Regions from separate parts of the Homo sapiens genome. Here region 2 is linked to region 1. The links come from fine-mapping of genetic effects on gene expression. Tissue or cell type: monocytes. Region 1 holds a variant in brackets; the other region holds the start of a gene. All regions are shown on one strand. Distances are from middle to middle. Region 1 overlaps IL17RB (interleukin 17 receptor B). Region 2 holds the start of ACTR8 (actin related protein 8).

Region 1 (8,000 bases):
AGGAAAGTACCATGGACTGCATTCAGAGCTTTCTTTTGTTTATCTCCTTAGCATAGCTACTCCTTAACCTGGGGTAGCCCAGTAAATACTCTAGGCCGTCCTAAAAACCTAGAGTTAAACATTAGAGTGTGAAGGGGCCTCACATCGGTCCCAAGTCATCCCCTGCTTGCAGCAGGGAAGGATGACATCCAGAGACAGATGGAGACCCACCTGTGGTCTTCAAGTGAGGTTATGCACTGGCTTGAGGATCAGGTATACTGATGGCTAATCCATGGTCCGTCATAGCCTACAGTGGGACAGCTTAGTTCCCCCCTAAGCTGTGAAGCAGAACCAGTTCATCTTTTCTTTGAAAGTTTGTCACTTGTATATGCATTTAAGGGGAAAATGGTGTTCTGCCTAATTTGGCAAAGGAAAGCTTGTGGTTTGCCGGCTTCAACGTGACGCTTGGTTTTTTCTCTCCCACAGACCGTTCAATGTGGCTCTGAAACTGGTAGGTGCATTAGAGAATGGGTATTTGGGGCTTTACATTGAAAGCACAGTTGGACTTTTAGGAAGCCTAATATAGGCAATAGGTCATCGAAGACCAGACACAGGGTGACCCATTGCTTTATTGGCTGATGCAGATGAAGTCTCTGTCTGCTCGAAGCAGAACTCTGGGGCTCTGTGGGAATGAGGCCGTGTTTCAGACAGGCTAGCCTCTTGGCCAGTCAAGATGGGACTTGCCATACAAGGTGGAAAGTGATGCCTGCCACTCTGCAGAGGGAGATCAAGGCCGTGGAAGGAAGGTCACTTAGAGTTGGGACCGAGAAGCAAATGTTTCATAGGAGAGCGGGTGTTTGAGATGGTGGCATTTGAAGAATGGGTAGGCTTCTGCCCAAAAAATGTGGGTAGGAAGAGTGAGCTGGAGGAGAGATGGCACCAGCAAAGGTTAGGAGGTGGGAAAGTGGGGGCTGTGTGGGCCAGCTGGCTGGAATCCAGGGCCAAAGCCTGAGGAAGGCAGGCCTGACTCTAATAAACATGTCAAATACACTAAATATATACATGTGTACATACACAGGTACCTGGAGTGGTCCCACGTGCTCTGTAGGTGAAAGCCAGGAGGTTGAGAGTACTTCTGTTAGATCAAAATTATCTGGGCTATAAATCAGCCAGCGCTAAGAAACATTTGGCCTTAGCAGGAAGAACTGAGGAATTGGGTCAGGCGTGGTGGCTTATACCTATAATCCAAGCACTTTGGGAGGCTGAGGTGGGAGGATCATTTGAGGCCAGGAGTTTGAGATCATCTTAGGCAACAGAGTGAGACCCCATCTCTACAAAAAACATTTTTTTAATTAAAAAAAAAAGAAGTGAGGAATTGTGAATGGGGGAAGGTTTGGTGTGAGTCACTGAGAGGAGATGGCATGGCATCAGACTGGGCTGGGAAAGACAGTGTCATGGAAGTCTTGCTTTTTCCCAGGGCCATCTCCAGAGTGGATGCTACAACATGATCTAATCCCCGGAGACTTGAGGGACCTCCGAGTAGAACCTGTTACAACTAGTGTTGCAACAGGGGACTATTCAATTTTGATGAATGTAAGCTGGGTACTCCGGGCAGATGGTAAGTTTGCATCCATCAGAGATAAGGCCCAAAGTGTCTACTAAATCAGAAATGTGCAGACTATATGAACCATTAATTCCCCTTCTACGCATAACCAACAGAAATACATGCATACACGCACCAAAAGCCACATACTAGGGTGATCGCAGTAGCACTACTTACAACAGGCAACATTAGAAAGCACTCAAATGCCCAACAGTAGAAAGGAATCACCAGATAAATTCCGTCACAGCAACAAGAATGAATGATCTGTAACTACGTACAACAATATGGATGAATGTCACAAACATAAGGCAGATTCAAAAGAGTTTGTACATTTATATCTGTGTGCATGCCTGCAGGCATACATGCCATATGATCCCATTTACAGAAAGTGCCAAGCAAACAAAACCAATCTAGTGTTTAGAAGTCAGGATAGTAGCCAGGAGCGGTGGCTAACGCCTGTAATCCCAGCACTTTGGGAGGCCGAGGTGGGTGGATCACTTGAGGCCAGGAGTTCGAGACCAGCCTGGCCAACATGGCAAAACCCCATCTCTACTAAGAATACAAAAATTAGCCAGATGTGGTGTTGCACACCTGTAATCCCAGCTACTCGGGAGGCTGAGGCACGAGAATCGCTTGAACCCAGGAGGCGGAGCTTGCAGTGAGCTGTGATCGCACCACTGCACTCCAGCAGCCTGGGCAACAGAGTGAAACTCCGTCTCAAAAAAAAAAAAAAAAGCAAAAGACCAGGCGTGGTGGCGCATGCCTGTAATCCCAGCACTTTGGGAGGCCAAGGCGGGTAGATTACTTGAGGTCAGGAGTTCAAGACCAGCCTGGCCAACATGGTGAAACTCCATCTCTCCTAAAAATACAAAAAATTAGCCAGGCATGGTGGCACATGCCTGTAATCCCAGCTACTTGGGAGGCTGAGGCAGGAGAATAACTTGAACCCAGGAGGTGGAGGTTGCAGTGAGTTGAGACTGTGCCATTGCACTCCTGCCTGGGTGACAGAGAGACTGTCTCAAAATAAAATAAAATAAAATAAAATAAAAGTCAGGGTAGTGGTTCCTGCTGGGGTAGGAATAACTGTAAGGAAGTATGAGGAGCACACCTGAGGGAGTTTCTTAACCTGCATACTGGTTGCATGAGTGTCCCGATGCATCAAGTGGTACACTTATGTGTGTACTTTTCTGTGTATGTACTTCATGGAAGAAGATAAGGTAAGGCGAGAGATGATTTTCCCCACCCCACTTCAGTTTAGGGAAAGCACTGGCTTAGATAGATTACTTTTCCACTTCCCAGATGACGTCACGAAGCTTTTGGCATTTCCCCAAGATTGTGCTGCAAGGCACCATATGAGTTCTTTCAGTGAGCTACTCCTGGGATCCTAATGCCCATCCTTTTGGTTTCCATCTGCTAAATTCAGATCGGAAAAAAGTCTACCTGGTCAAGAATCCATGAGTGCCAGGCACAGAGAGAGGAGTCACCTACAGTCTCCACCCAGGAGGATTCAGAGGGGTAGGGGAGGCAGACACAGGCACAATGTCAGGGGAGTCCCAGAAGGGAGCTGTGCTTCATCTGAGTGGGATAGGGCGAGAGGAGCTGGAAAGGGTCTCTGGTGAGGTTGCTTTAGGTGAGATGTGGCCATAAGGGTTTGGGCCCTTACCTGGCACAGAGTGAGCTCTTTGTCAGCTGTGGTTATGGGCTGTGGTGCATGAGTGAGTTGGGCTTTAAAAGAGTGAAACTTGAAGAGGTAGATAATGGGAGGAAAGGACCTTCAGGGAGAAGAATCAGCATGGATAAAGGTGCAATCGGAACAGGTGTGGTTTGGTGATGACAGTCTTGGAGGGTCTTTGTGGGTCTCCCTGAGGCCAGCCTCTTCCTCTTAAAAGAGACCCAGAATAGTGCAGAGCTATAGCCACCTTTGCAGGCATCCTATGAAATTCAAGCTGACCTATGAGGAGGAGGGAGCTTGGGCTTTGGAATCTGAATTCGTATCTGCTACTTGCTGATGAGTTTTCTAAGTTTAAGCAGAGCTCCCTGAAACTTCCTAAGCCTCACGAACCCCATCTGTAAACTGGAGACAGTGGTGCCTACCTTTCAGTACTATTGTGAATATGAACCGAGACATAAAATAAAGCATGCTAGTAAAGCATCTAGCATCAAGTCAGCCACACAGCAAGTGCTAAATAAACCAATGTCCTCTTGCCTATCTCGGCAGCCAGCATCCGCTTGTTGAAGGCCACCAAGATTTGTGTGACGGGCAAAAGCAACTTCCAGTCCTACAGCTGTGTGAGGTGCAATTACACAGAGGCCTTCCAGACTCAGACCAGACCCTCTGGTGGTAAAGTAAGCACTTTTTTGTTTTTTGTTTTGTTTTTTGAGATAGCATCTTGTTCTGTCACCCAGGCTGGAGTGCAGTGGTGCGATCATGGCTCACTGCGACCTCAATCTTCTGGGCTCAAGCGATCGTTCTACTTCAGCCTCCCAAGCAGCTGGGACTACAGGCATGAGCCACCAGACCTGGCTAATTTTTGTAGTTTTTGTAGAGGGGGGTTTCACCGTGTTGCTGGTCTTGAATTCCAGTGCTCAAGCGATCTGCCTGCCTCAGCTTCCCAAAGTGCTGGGATTACAGGTATGAGCCACTGTATCCGGGCATAGACACTTTTATGTATTTGGCTAATTGTTGCTGAAAGCTATGCCCTTTGTTTGGGGAGCATGGATGATGTGCTGCTCACACGGGCTGGTAAATAGCTATGACTCAGAGCTTAGAGCAAGATCCCTTGGTTCAAATCCCATTTTCGGCTACTTCTCTGTTTTGTGCCTTTTGTAAGTCAGCATCTCTGGGCCTCAGTTTTTCCCTACCAGCCAATGGAAGAGAATTGGACTTAAATTATATCCTGGCTTTAAAACTTTATACTTCTCTGATTCTGTAAATTGTTTAGTGCCCATTCCCTAAGTAGACATTGGTTGGAGACCTAAGTTTTCACAGAGTGAGTAATGAAATACAAACTAAAAGGGCAACACACTAAGGTATACTGTTTCTGTACTGCAGTGTTTTGGGAATTGAGAGTTCCTTGCTTTGCCTTTCAGTGGACATTTTCCTA[C/T]ATCGGCTTCCCTGTAGAGCTGAACACAGTCTATTTCATTGGGGCCCATAATATTCCTAATGCAAATATGAATGAAGATGGCCCTTCCATGTCTGTGAATTTCACCTCACCAGGTAAACTTCCTCATTTGTTTATTATTCTTTGTCTTGCTGGGATGCCTGCTTTGCGATATGCACAGAGAGAGCCCAGGGAACCCTGGATAAGGCTTTTGGCCTTGCTAAATCTCAGTTCCCTTATCTAAAGCATGGACACAGTAGTAACCATACTTTACCCACAGAGCAGAGAGAATAAAGTCAGGTAAAATGTAGGAAAAAGTCTGTTCCTGTATGCCAGGCACTGTGCTGAATACTTGATATGCATCATCTCACTTAAGCATCTCAGCAACCCCAAGGTTGGGATAGCTGCATTTTACAGATGAAGAAACTGAGAGGTTAAGTCACTTTCCCTGGGTTATACACACATAAAAGTGAAGCTGACATTCACACTTTGGTCCTTCTAGAGCAATGCACCTGAGCCACTCTTTATATCACTGATGCAAAATGTTTGTTCGTTCCTATCTCAGCTTTCTAGAGTGGGCTGCATATGGCTGGGCCTCTGAGAATCTACAGACTCCAGTTGGCTTGTCCCCAAGCTGTCCATGAGAGGCAGGGTGGTCCTGAGTTGGATGCTGGGCCCTTGCCCCAGCTTTGTGACACAGGACCAGTTCTCTGGTACCACAGCTGCAATGTCACACACAGGGCTGTGATGAGGATGAGACAGGATGGTGTGTGTGAAGGGTCTATCTGAGCCGAGTCACCCATCCCATACCACCATCCTGTCATCTGTCACAGGCAAGGCATCAAAGCCAAACGGTAATTTCCAATTCACTGCTGGTCTTGGAGATTGTGGTCCAGGGTGTTTTTGGTGCTGCACCATTTACTACACGTGGTTTCCAACTTTCTTGATGAGAGCAAACCTCATTTTGTTTTCAAATAAGCTTTTTTATTTTGGAATTCTTTTATTTTATTATTTATTTATTTATTTATTTTTTAGACGGGGTTTTGCTCTTGTTGCCCTGGCTGGAGTGCAGTGGCACCATCTCAGCTCACTGCAACCTCCGCCTCTTGGATTTAAGTGATTCTCCTGCCTCAGCCTCCCAAGAAGCTAGGATTACAGTCATGAGCCACCACACCCAGCTAATTTTTGTATTTTTAGTAGAGACGGGGTTTCACTATGATGGCTAGGCTAGTCTCAAACTCCTAACCTCGGGTGATCTGCCTACCTTGGCCTCCCAAAGTGCTGGGATTACAGGAGTGAGCCACCGTACCCAGCCTTATTTTGGAATAATTTTAGATTTACAGAAAAGTTGCAAAGATAGTACAGTTTCCATATACCTCTCACCCAGCTTCTCCTATTAACGTCTTGTATTACCATGATACATTTGTCAAAACTAAGAAACCAACATTAGTACGTGTCTGTTAACTAAACTCCAGACTTTATTTGGACTTCACCTGCTTTTTCATGAATGTCCTCTTTCTGTTCCAGTTGCATTTAGTCCCTGTGTGTCTCTCCTCTGGTCTGTAACAGTTTCTTAGTCTTTGTTTTTCAGAACGTTGACAGTCTTGAGTTCTGACCAGGCATCCTGTAGAATGTCCCCCAGTGTGGGTTTGTCTGATGTTTGTCTCATGATTAGACAGGGAATTCATACCACAGAGGTGCCGGGCCCTTCTTATCCCATCAGGGGTCCATGGCACCCACATGACACCAGGCTGGGGGTCACCATCAACACTAGATTAATGTGGGGACTGCCAGACTTCTCCATGTAAATCTACTGTTTTTCCCAACTCTCGTTTTTGGAAACAAGTCACTAATTCTACCCCACCCTGGGGTGAGGATAGGGGAGTGTTAGGCTTCATGTCCTTGAAGGGGCAGCATCTACAGATATTACCAAATGTCCTTTTCAAATGATGGATGGTTTTCGAGTCCTCTCTTAGGGATCAAAGATACTGTTTTGATAAAGGCTGTATTTAAATTAGACTCTGGTTATCACGTAATGGGCAGATGTTCTCTGTTTAGCAGTAAAATGTTAGAGCCCCACAAAAAATTAGCCGGGCGTGGTGGCGGGCGCCTGTAGTCCCAGCTACTCAGGAGCCTGAGGCAGGAGAATGGCGTGAACCTGGGTGGCAGAGCTAGCAGTGAGCTGAGATTGCGCCACTGCACTCCAGCCTAGGCGACAGAGCAAGACTCCGGCTCAAAAAAAAAAAAAAAAAAAAAAAAATTAGAGCCCCATTTGAATTTGCCATCTTACATCTGGAATGTTTTGGCAATTTGTTACAGGTGTGGTATGCGTATGTGTGTGTGCACTTGGCAAAGGGGGTGGGGCAGAGATACCTTTTTCTAAAATGTAAAAACTTTCATTCAAATTTCCAGGCTGCCTAGACCACATAATGAAATATAAAAAAAAGTGTGTCAAGGCCGGTAAGTAAATACGGCATTTGCTTTTATTATTTGAAGAAACTTGTAACTTGAGGCAGCATAGCTCTCTTCATCTTTGCACAGAAGAACTGAGCCCTAGGGGAGAGTTGAATATCCAAGCACCCCCGATGGTGGTGGCAGAAGCACCTATGGCTCCTGATCTCCAGCCAGTACTTTGCCCACTGAGTGCAGCAGCCTGTCCAGAAAGGGGTAGACCCTCAGTACATTTATATAGTGGAGCAACAGTCACAAAGAACCACCCCCATCCACTTGGTTAACAACATTTTAGCCCAAATGGCTCAGCAGTGCCAATCAAAGGCTCTTCCTGATTGATGGGAGTCCTACGAGCCCTTCCACCTGCTCAGATGCTAGCACCACCCACCTGTGGCCATGGGGATCCTAAGAACCTTCTGTTTGGATTAGCAAACATTCGAGGTGGGAGTGTGAGTTCGCTAAAGGACTGGCCCACAATTACGCTCTCAATTTGTGTCCTCAAAGAGGATCACTTTTCACAGGCTAGTGAATTTTACCCCTTGAATTTTGTAGTAATCCCCTTTAGGATTATTAGTCCCTAGTGCCCAGTTTCCAAGGGTTTGTGTAAATTTCTGAGTAATATAGTGTTGGAATGCTAATGAGGCTAGTGGTATTTGGATCAGCCCAGAACTCTTAGGCACCCTTCACTGCACAAGGCATCCCTGGTACCCTTTCAGACAGCCGTCCATGCTGTCCTTGCTAGAAGGCAGATTTGGACGCTGAGCTTCCCACCAAGGGTACAGAGAACACTGCAGGTGTGAGGAGGTCAGAGGGCCTTGAAGTCAGTCCTGAACCTGAACTCCTAAAGACAGTTCTGAGCCAGGGCC
Region 2 (8,048 bases), 30 kb after region 1:
GGCAACATGGCAAAACACCATCTCTACAAAAAATACAAGAAATTAGCTGGGTGTGGTGGCACAGGCCTGTGGTCCCAGCTACTTGGGAGACTAAGGTGGAAAGATTGCTTGAGCCCAGGAGGTGGAAGGTGCAATGAGCCGAGATCGCACCACTGTACTCCAGCCTGAAGAAGAGAGCAAGACCCTGTCTCAAGAAAAGAAAAAAAGAATTCCCAGGAATCTTTTATTATAAATAAGTCAAAAGCAGCCCTCACTATAAAACAACTATATGCAAAATTTTCAAGTGATTTTTCATAAAATTTCTCACAGCACTAATCAAAGCATACCTACTTCATGTTTAAAAAATATTTCAGAGACTCTTCCATACAATTATATAATTCTTATGTTTACAGTTTTGACAATGACACATTCCTTCATATGTTGATCAGCAAGGCTTAAACTTTTTGGTTAAGCCATAAACTTACTGGTTCTCGTTATTATAGTATAAAGAAAATGCCCATAAATATCTTTACAGAAATGTTTTCTTTTGATTTTTATTTCTTAAACGTACTCCCTAAAGTAGAATTATAAGATCCAAAGATAAATAATGAAGTGCGGACTCTTATATCAGCAAGTTATATTTAAACTTACAACTAGACTTACGTAGAGTCTGCTTGTTACACTAAAAAATGGAACCCTAAGGCCTACTATCAGAATTAAAGAAACTTTACATTCCCAAAACTATCCTTGACTTAAAACTTCAAAGTAAAATGTGGATTATGATGTAATATATAGATTTATCATTGATCACAAAGAATTTTCCTGATAATTACCATCTGCAACATAGGATAAAGTAGATGCTTACTGCAAGAAAATTTTTTTTTTGCCTTGAAATTATGGTTAATCTAAGACCATAATAAGTGCTTATTGTAACAATCTAATTTGCTAATGGATTGAAAATAAGAGTTTGACTTATTGACTTAAACTGTAAGTATCTGAAAGAGATATTTACAGTTTAAATATGGCTTAATCCATAAGTTTAAGCCTGTTAACAAGGACCTGAATGTATTACTGTGAGTGATGATTTTGTGTCTTCCATTATAGATCACCTTCATCCACACTCAATTCACCCTGAAAGACTTACTTTTGTTGTAACTAATTCTTTACATCTAAAGTCACTAGCTCTGATGAAAAATTAGTGACATTATTAATGTTTTAAAACACAGCAAAGCTATGAAGATGTTTCTTTAAGATTCTGGTGTACTTGTGTCTAAGCCCTCCCAGGGAAACAACCTTAGGCTTTCTCTCCAGGTCGTTTTTGACTTACATTTAGTCCCTCCCTTAGGAGCCAACTGTCCTTGTATAGGGGCTGCCCTTGTTGTTTGTGTCTTCGGGCAATGACGTGAGGAATGCTGGCAGGAAGAGTGTCTGTGGCTCGACCAATCCTTAAAGTTGTTGAACCTGGATGTATGACAATGATGAAGTTGCTCTGGATTTGCTGCAGATATAAAACATAGATGTGTGACTTTGTAAATAATATGCAGGTAACAAAGTTAAACAACATACACATAACAAGCTAAACTAAGAAGCTGACTCAAAGGTATCAAAATAATTCAATAAAGTTCTTTGAGAAGTATCCAATTACCGCTCTCTACCTAAACACAAACTCATTGTTTATTATGTTCCCTTGACCTGAGTTATAGTACATAGCTCAACAAATATTTGTTTAAATAAATGAAACAAAAATTGTCCACTACAAATTAACATACAGTTATTGAGCATTTATGTGACTGAAGAAATGTTGCTATAGAATCCGGGCCCAGGCTCTGAATTCACGGATCTGTCTGCAAATTCAGACTGCCACTTCCTTGCTCTGAATGAAGCTCCTAACTCACAGTTACTGTGAGAATTAAATGAGTTATACATGTAACTCAGAGCTGGGCCACAGGAAGCATTCGAGGAATGTTGGCTCTTACTATAGTAAAGCCTTTCAACGTGATCCACTGCCTTCACAAGAGGTCAGACTCTGTGGCTTACACGACCCTCATGATATGGCCCCTGCTAAGATCTTCAGTCCCCTTCCTTAACTCCAGACATCCTAATCTACTGGCTGGGCCTCCAACACTTCACATCCTCTGTTGGCACAAGTGTCTTCCACACTGTTCTTCTTCCCTGAGATTCCCTCCTCCCTCTGGTTAGCTCCTAATCACCTTCAGGACTCTAAACAGATGTCACCTCACCTCCTTTGAAGAAACCCTCCCTGACTGTCGGGGATGGAGGAGGTACTTGCTTGAGTGCCCAATACTGCCCTCTGCACAAGCCCATTCCATGCCATGCTCTGATACCTGTTGTCCTATCTCCAAGTGTGACCTCTCTCCTCCTAATCACCCCCCACAGAGTGGGAGAATCCTAGAGGGAAGGATCTGGCAAGGCCCTTACAGACCATCCAGTCAGCCTTCTCAACTAGACAGATGGAGAAACCAGGCCTGTGCAACAGTAATGGCCACTCTGGGCTTACGGTGTGCCAGGCACTGTCATACTAGTGATAACTAACTAGTAGCTGCCCTACTAGTTAGGTATTATCCTTAACCCATCTACCGGTAAGGAAGCTGGATCAGAGATGTCCTACATGAATTTCTGAGCAGTTTATGCCTCATTTCTTCTGTGAATTGTACACTGCCTGTGCCCGTTTTCCTACGTGAATGCTGTTTTAGTTACTGATCAGTAAGGTTTTGTGTATGTGTATACATCTAAGGTCCTCTGCCAGGCACGCTACTGCAAATAATTTTTTCTGGTTAGTTTAGTTTGGTCTAATAGTGTTGTTTTTGATACACAAGCTCTTAATATATATTTAGACAAATGTCCACCATTTCCTTGCTTTTAAGCTTGAAATGACTTCCATTATCTGAGATTTCCTTAACAAAGGAAAAAGCCTGGACCCCAAACTATCCCTTAACAAGCACAGGCTGACGCTCCCAGTGAGCCAGCCTGGTCCTAAACTCTATCTGCCACCATTTAACCCTCACGGCAACTTGCGAGGCGGCTGGTTATCACCGTGGTCGTTTTATGGTCGGGGAAGCTGAGGCCAGAGCCCGGGCAGGAGCGCACACAACCAGACGGTGGGGCGTGCGGGAGATCGGAGCGGTGTCCCTGCGGGGGCTCCGCCTGGCTCCTGGCGCTCCGCACCTCCCAGCCCTCGGCGTCCCGGCGCGCCACCACCCGGAAAAGAACGACCGCTTCCGCACTCCCCCCACCAGGGGCTGGGGCCTGCAAGGGGGACTCGAAGCCTCCCGCCGCCTCCCGCCCCTTGCCTGGCAGCGGAGGACCCAAGCAAGGGCAAAGAGTTCCAACCCAGCCAGAGCCGCACCTCTTGCAGCGACTCCGGCACCAGCGCGGGCACGATGGGCCGCTTCACGCCGCGCTGCTCCTTCTCCTTCTCGCCGCCCTTCTCCTTTCCGTTCTCCGTATCACCCTTCTCAGCCTGGGTCATTATGGCCGGAGACACCCACCAACCTCTCGCCTCAGCGCTGCAGCCACGACTGCCGGGATGGAAGGGCCACCGCGCAGGCGCACGGCCGGCTGCCCACAGTCAAGATGGCCGCCGCGGAGTCGCCCCAGAGGGCTCCGAAAAGGCGGGGGTGGGGCTGCCCGGCGCAGGGGCTGGGGGCGGGGTGTGCATGCGGATTGATTGGGTGGGTGTTGCTGTGATTAGTCCTGACTGTGTAGATGCCAGCAACATAGTACACATAGCTTTTCGAGCGCCTAGTGGGGGTCGGCTGATAACCCGCATCTTATTTCGTCCTCACAGGCATCTCTTCTCCTGGCTTCCCAGATACCATATGTACTCTTAGTTTTTCTCATATGTCTTCATGTTCAGTCCAGCCTCTGATGTTGGGGTTAGGTCTTTTCCAGGCACACTCCTTGGGTGACTATCCAGTTTCCTGGCTTTAGCAATGAATACGATTCCCAAATATATATATCCAGGATGAACCGCTCAGAGAGATCCGTACTGATAACCAGTGCCTACTTGGTCTCTCCATCTGGATTGTCTACAAGGCACTGCAAACTTAAATATGTCCAAAATTTAACTCTTGATTCCCTCCCCTCTCACTTTCACCATCTCAGTAAATGTCATTTTGATTCTTCACTTGTTGACAGCTTCTACATCCAATCCATCAGTAAATCCTGCAGTCTCTAAAATAGATCTTGAATTCATCCACTTCTCCATTCCCATGCCACTACCTAGCCCAAGCCACTATCATCTCACCTGGATGACTACAACAGCCTCTTAACTCGAACTCCTTGTCCTGTCCCCCTATGATCTGTTCTTATATAGTTGCCCACGTTGTTTTAAAATATTACGTAGTTAATACTACTATGTACCCAGCACTCCACTAAGACTTACCTCAAAAATTAGATGTCACTCATGCTTTAAACTCTAATGGTTTCCCTTTGCTCAAAGAACAGAATCTAAACTAACCACCACCTAAAGACCATATCTAGTTATTGCTACATTTCTAAGTTCACCTCACAACACTCTCCCCATTCCTTGGCATTTCCAGCTACACCTGTTTTATCTTTCTCAGACATGCCAAGCCCTTCCCGTCATCGGGCTGTTGCACTTGCTGTTCATTTTGCCTTGGATGCTCTTCCCTCAGCTGTCTCATTCTCACGTCTGAACTCAAATGTCACCTCAGGCCTTCCGCAGTTATTCTCTCATCATCCTATTCCCTTTGAAGCATGAAGCATTAGTCTGTAATTATCATGCCTGCTCACTGTCTCCCACACTAGAATGTAAGCTCCGTGAGACTTTGCCAGTTATCTTCAGCACATGGTAGGTGCCCAATAAGCATGTGATGACTAAATACTAAATAAAGAACTCTTGGAGGTAAAAATTTAATCCCCGTTTTACAGGTGAGTGAAGTGGGATAAAATGGCATAATTCACTCAAGATCATAAGCTATTGAGTAGCAAAGACAAGAGTTAAGCATAAAGTACTCAAGAACCTGTGTTTTACATTCTATCTGAAGTGCAAAGAAGAATACCTGAATGTCAAATGCAGCCAGAACTCTGGGATAAGACCCGAGGAACAAGTCCTGCAGCAGCAGTGCTAGGAGGCAGAAGAGGACCATGGTTCACATGCTCAGGAAGAGCCATCAGTAACAACAATCAACCACCTACTGAGACTCTGCCATGGTCTCCCCGCTATAGGGTAAGGTGGAGGTTTAATAATGCCTCTGCCATTCACTGGCAATACAATCTAGGAAGCTGCCAAACTTTACTGAACCCTTGCATGTATCTGTATAATGCAAATGTCATTATACATTTACCTCACTTTGTATATATGTATACATTATACATATCCCTCACTTTGTCAGAATTTAAAATGTGTAAAAATTTACAGGCTGGGCATTGTGGCTCACACGTGTAATCCCAGCGTTTAGGGAGGCCATAGTGGGAGATCACTTTAGCCCAAAAGGTCAAGGCTGCAGTGAGCAGCCACTGTACTCCAGCCTGGATAAGAGTGAGACCCTGTCTCAAAAATAAAAATAAAAAATAAAAATAAAATAAAAATTAAAAAATAAATAAAATCTGACACATAATTGAGGTGGCCAGCAAACTGTTATCCTTATCCTGAAACCTGCATTGTAATTGCTTCTTTATCCTGAATATTGGTATCTTATGCCACAACATCCCATTTCCCGACAAACGGGGTTGAATAAATGCTGATAAATCAATATAAAAAGGCTTTCACCTGAACACTTGGTTTCAAAGCCTGTTAAACACCAGAAGAGGAATTATCTGTTTTCGTTTTTCCAATAAATATTTATTTCCAATAAATACTACATGACTATCTTACATGTAGTCACTATTCAAAGGACTGGGGTAAAGACAACAAAATTCCTAGTCTCAGAGCTTCCACTCTAGTGAAAGAATGTGAAAGTTATCAGTATTCAGATGGAGTTTAAAGCCAATAGGCAGTATTTTGAGTGATGCTATAGAGTGCAAATTTGTCAAGATAGCATGGAAGCCCATGGTTTTATTTATTTTTTTGAGACAGGGTCTCACTCTGTTGCCTAGGCAGGAGTGCAGTGGCATGCTCACAGCAACCTCCGCCTCCCGGGTTGAAGCGATTCTCCTGCCTCCGCCTCCTGAGTAGCAGGGATTACAGGTGCACTCTACCACGCCTGGCTAATTTTTGTTATTTTAGGTTTCGTCATGCTGCAGGCTGGTCTCAAACTCGTGAACTTAGGCGATCTGCCCGCCTCAGCCTCCCACAGTGCTGGGATTACAGGCATGAGCCACCGCGCCAGGCTGAAGTCCATGATTTTAAAAACTATTTAGTAAATTTTCATTTTGTAGCTCAGTTTTGTTAGCTATGGTTTTATAAATACCCTGATAATTACATTTGGTAGCAAATTAGACACAGTGTATTAAAGATTGATGAGACAAATATGTTAAAGATAAAAATTAATTCAAGAGCACAGATATGCTATGCATACTACTAAAATAAATACAGTGATTTATAAATGAGAAAAAGTTAACAATGAACAGTGTTTCAGAAGTTGAAAAGGTGACACTAACAGTGCTAAATACACAGGCTTTTATTTGTTTTCTTCAGATTGCTTTTTCGTGAATATAAAGATGAGGAGTCCATTCTGCAACCTAAAAATATTTACTTATTAAAACTATATTAATACTTTAATAAACTATACAAAAAGGTAATGAGACAAACATCTGCATTTATGGAACTGCATGTCAGTCAGGCCAGTTCCCTGCAGAGGGAATTCCCAGCATGACCTCATTCATCTGTGAGGACACAGAGCAGTCCTTGTTTAGACATACACATTCATCTACTGCTCATCATGGTCAGCCTTCCACTTCTTGATGGTTTCCTTCTGCTATGAATGCGCATGTCCGGTTGTCTGCTTCTTAGAGCAGACATTTACCTGAAAGAAAATGTTACAATAATTAGTTACTGGTTATTAATTTGGATCTGTGTGAAAACCTCAACATATTACATGTTATAAAATCTTTCTCAAAAGACATTTTGATAACAAGGCCAGTGAATTTTTCAAGGGTTAAGATAACAAATATATTTCCAAATAATGTCTGAGTAATTATAAGCTGCTGGGCAACTTCTTAAAGAAAACATTACTACAGAAGTGTTTTCAAAACAAAATCCTACAAAAGAATTTCAGATCTGAAGTTACCTTCCTCATCCACCAGCCATTGGAGGGGGACTAGGGCCACGCAGATGATTGATTCTACCCATTCTTCGGGGAGGGTTTCCTGGTGGCCTAATAAAATAAAAAGTTAGTATCTACTGTTTGATAGACACAACTTGAATTGTCTCCTTTTAAAAGCACTCAACTAGACCCTTTTCTTTTTCAGCACCCACATGACCCTAAAACACAATTTAAAATAGAAACTACCATTTTAGGTCAGGAGGCAAAAATTAAAACACTTAAAGGGACCAGACACATAATGCACACAAGGAACTGAGTCAAGAAAGGACTGTGATGAACTGAATAGCACCTCCAGTAATGCCCCACTGAAACCCAGCTCCAGCTGATTTTTGCCAGGTAGAAACATAAGCCTAGCCCAGTGCTACTTGATCTTGATCTTTACGGCTTTTTTTTTGAGATGGAGTCCCACTCTGTCTCCAGGCTGGAGTGCAGTGGCACGATCTCAGCTCACTGCAACCTCTACCTCCTGGGTTCAAACAATTCTCCTGCCTCAGCCTCCTGAGTAGCTGGGACTACAGGCGCATACCACCACACCCAGCTAATTTTTGTATTTTAGTAGAGACGGGGTTTCATCATGTTGGTCAGGATGGTCTCGATCTCTTGACCTCGTGATCCACCCGCCTCAGCCTCCCAAAGTGCTGGGATTACAGGCTCAAGCCACCGTGCCTGGCGATCTTCTAAGTTTTTAATTAGCAACTAGAAATCCAGATGTTAAAATGAAATCTTTAGATTTTAATGGTGGCCATCAGTTTTCACCCTCTAATTTAGACTTTTTCCATGGGATATTTCATGTATATTTTAGCTTTGTCAGATTAACTG

What was found.
Region 2: ACTR8 starts here. The variant in region 1 is fine-mapped to the expression of ACTR8 in monocytes (TOPMed, PIP 0.91).

What each region holds. Positions count from the first base shown.
Region 1 is chr3:53,848,199-53,856,198 of GRCh38, forward strand. IL17RB (interleukin 17 receptor B) reads left to right here. Exons shown (of 11, transcript NM_018725.4): 2 at 466-490; 3 at 1,457-1,597; 4 at 3,801-3,928; 5 at 4,673-4,799; 6 at 7,096-7,143. Among named protein-coding and RNA genes, the nearest start is that of IL17RB, 5.6 kb to the left of the region's middle. The variant C/T (reference allele first, on the strand shown) is at 4,687.
Region 2 is chr3:53,878,633-53,886,680 of GRCh38, forward strand. ACTR8 (actin related protein 8) reads right to left here and starts at 3,520. Exons shown (of 13, transcript NM_022899.5): 1 at 3,347-3,520; 2 at 1,307-1,477. The coding sequence starts at 3,469. SELENOK (selenoprotein K) reads right to left here. Exons shown (of 5, transcript NM_021237.5): 4 at 7,194-7,280; 5 at 5,785-6,929. The coding sequence ends at 6,926. RefSeq lists silencers at 3,147-3,256, 3,647-3,736 and an enhancer at 3,407-3,486.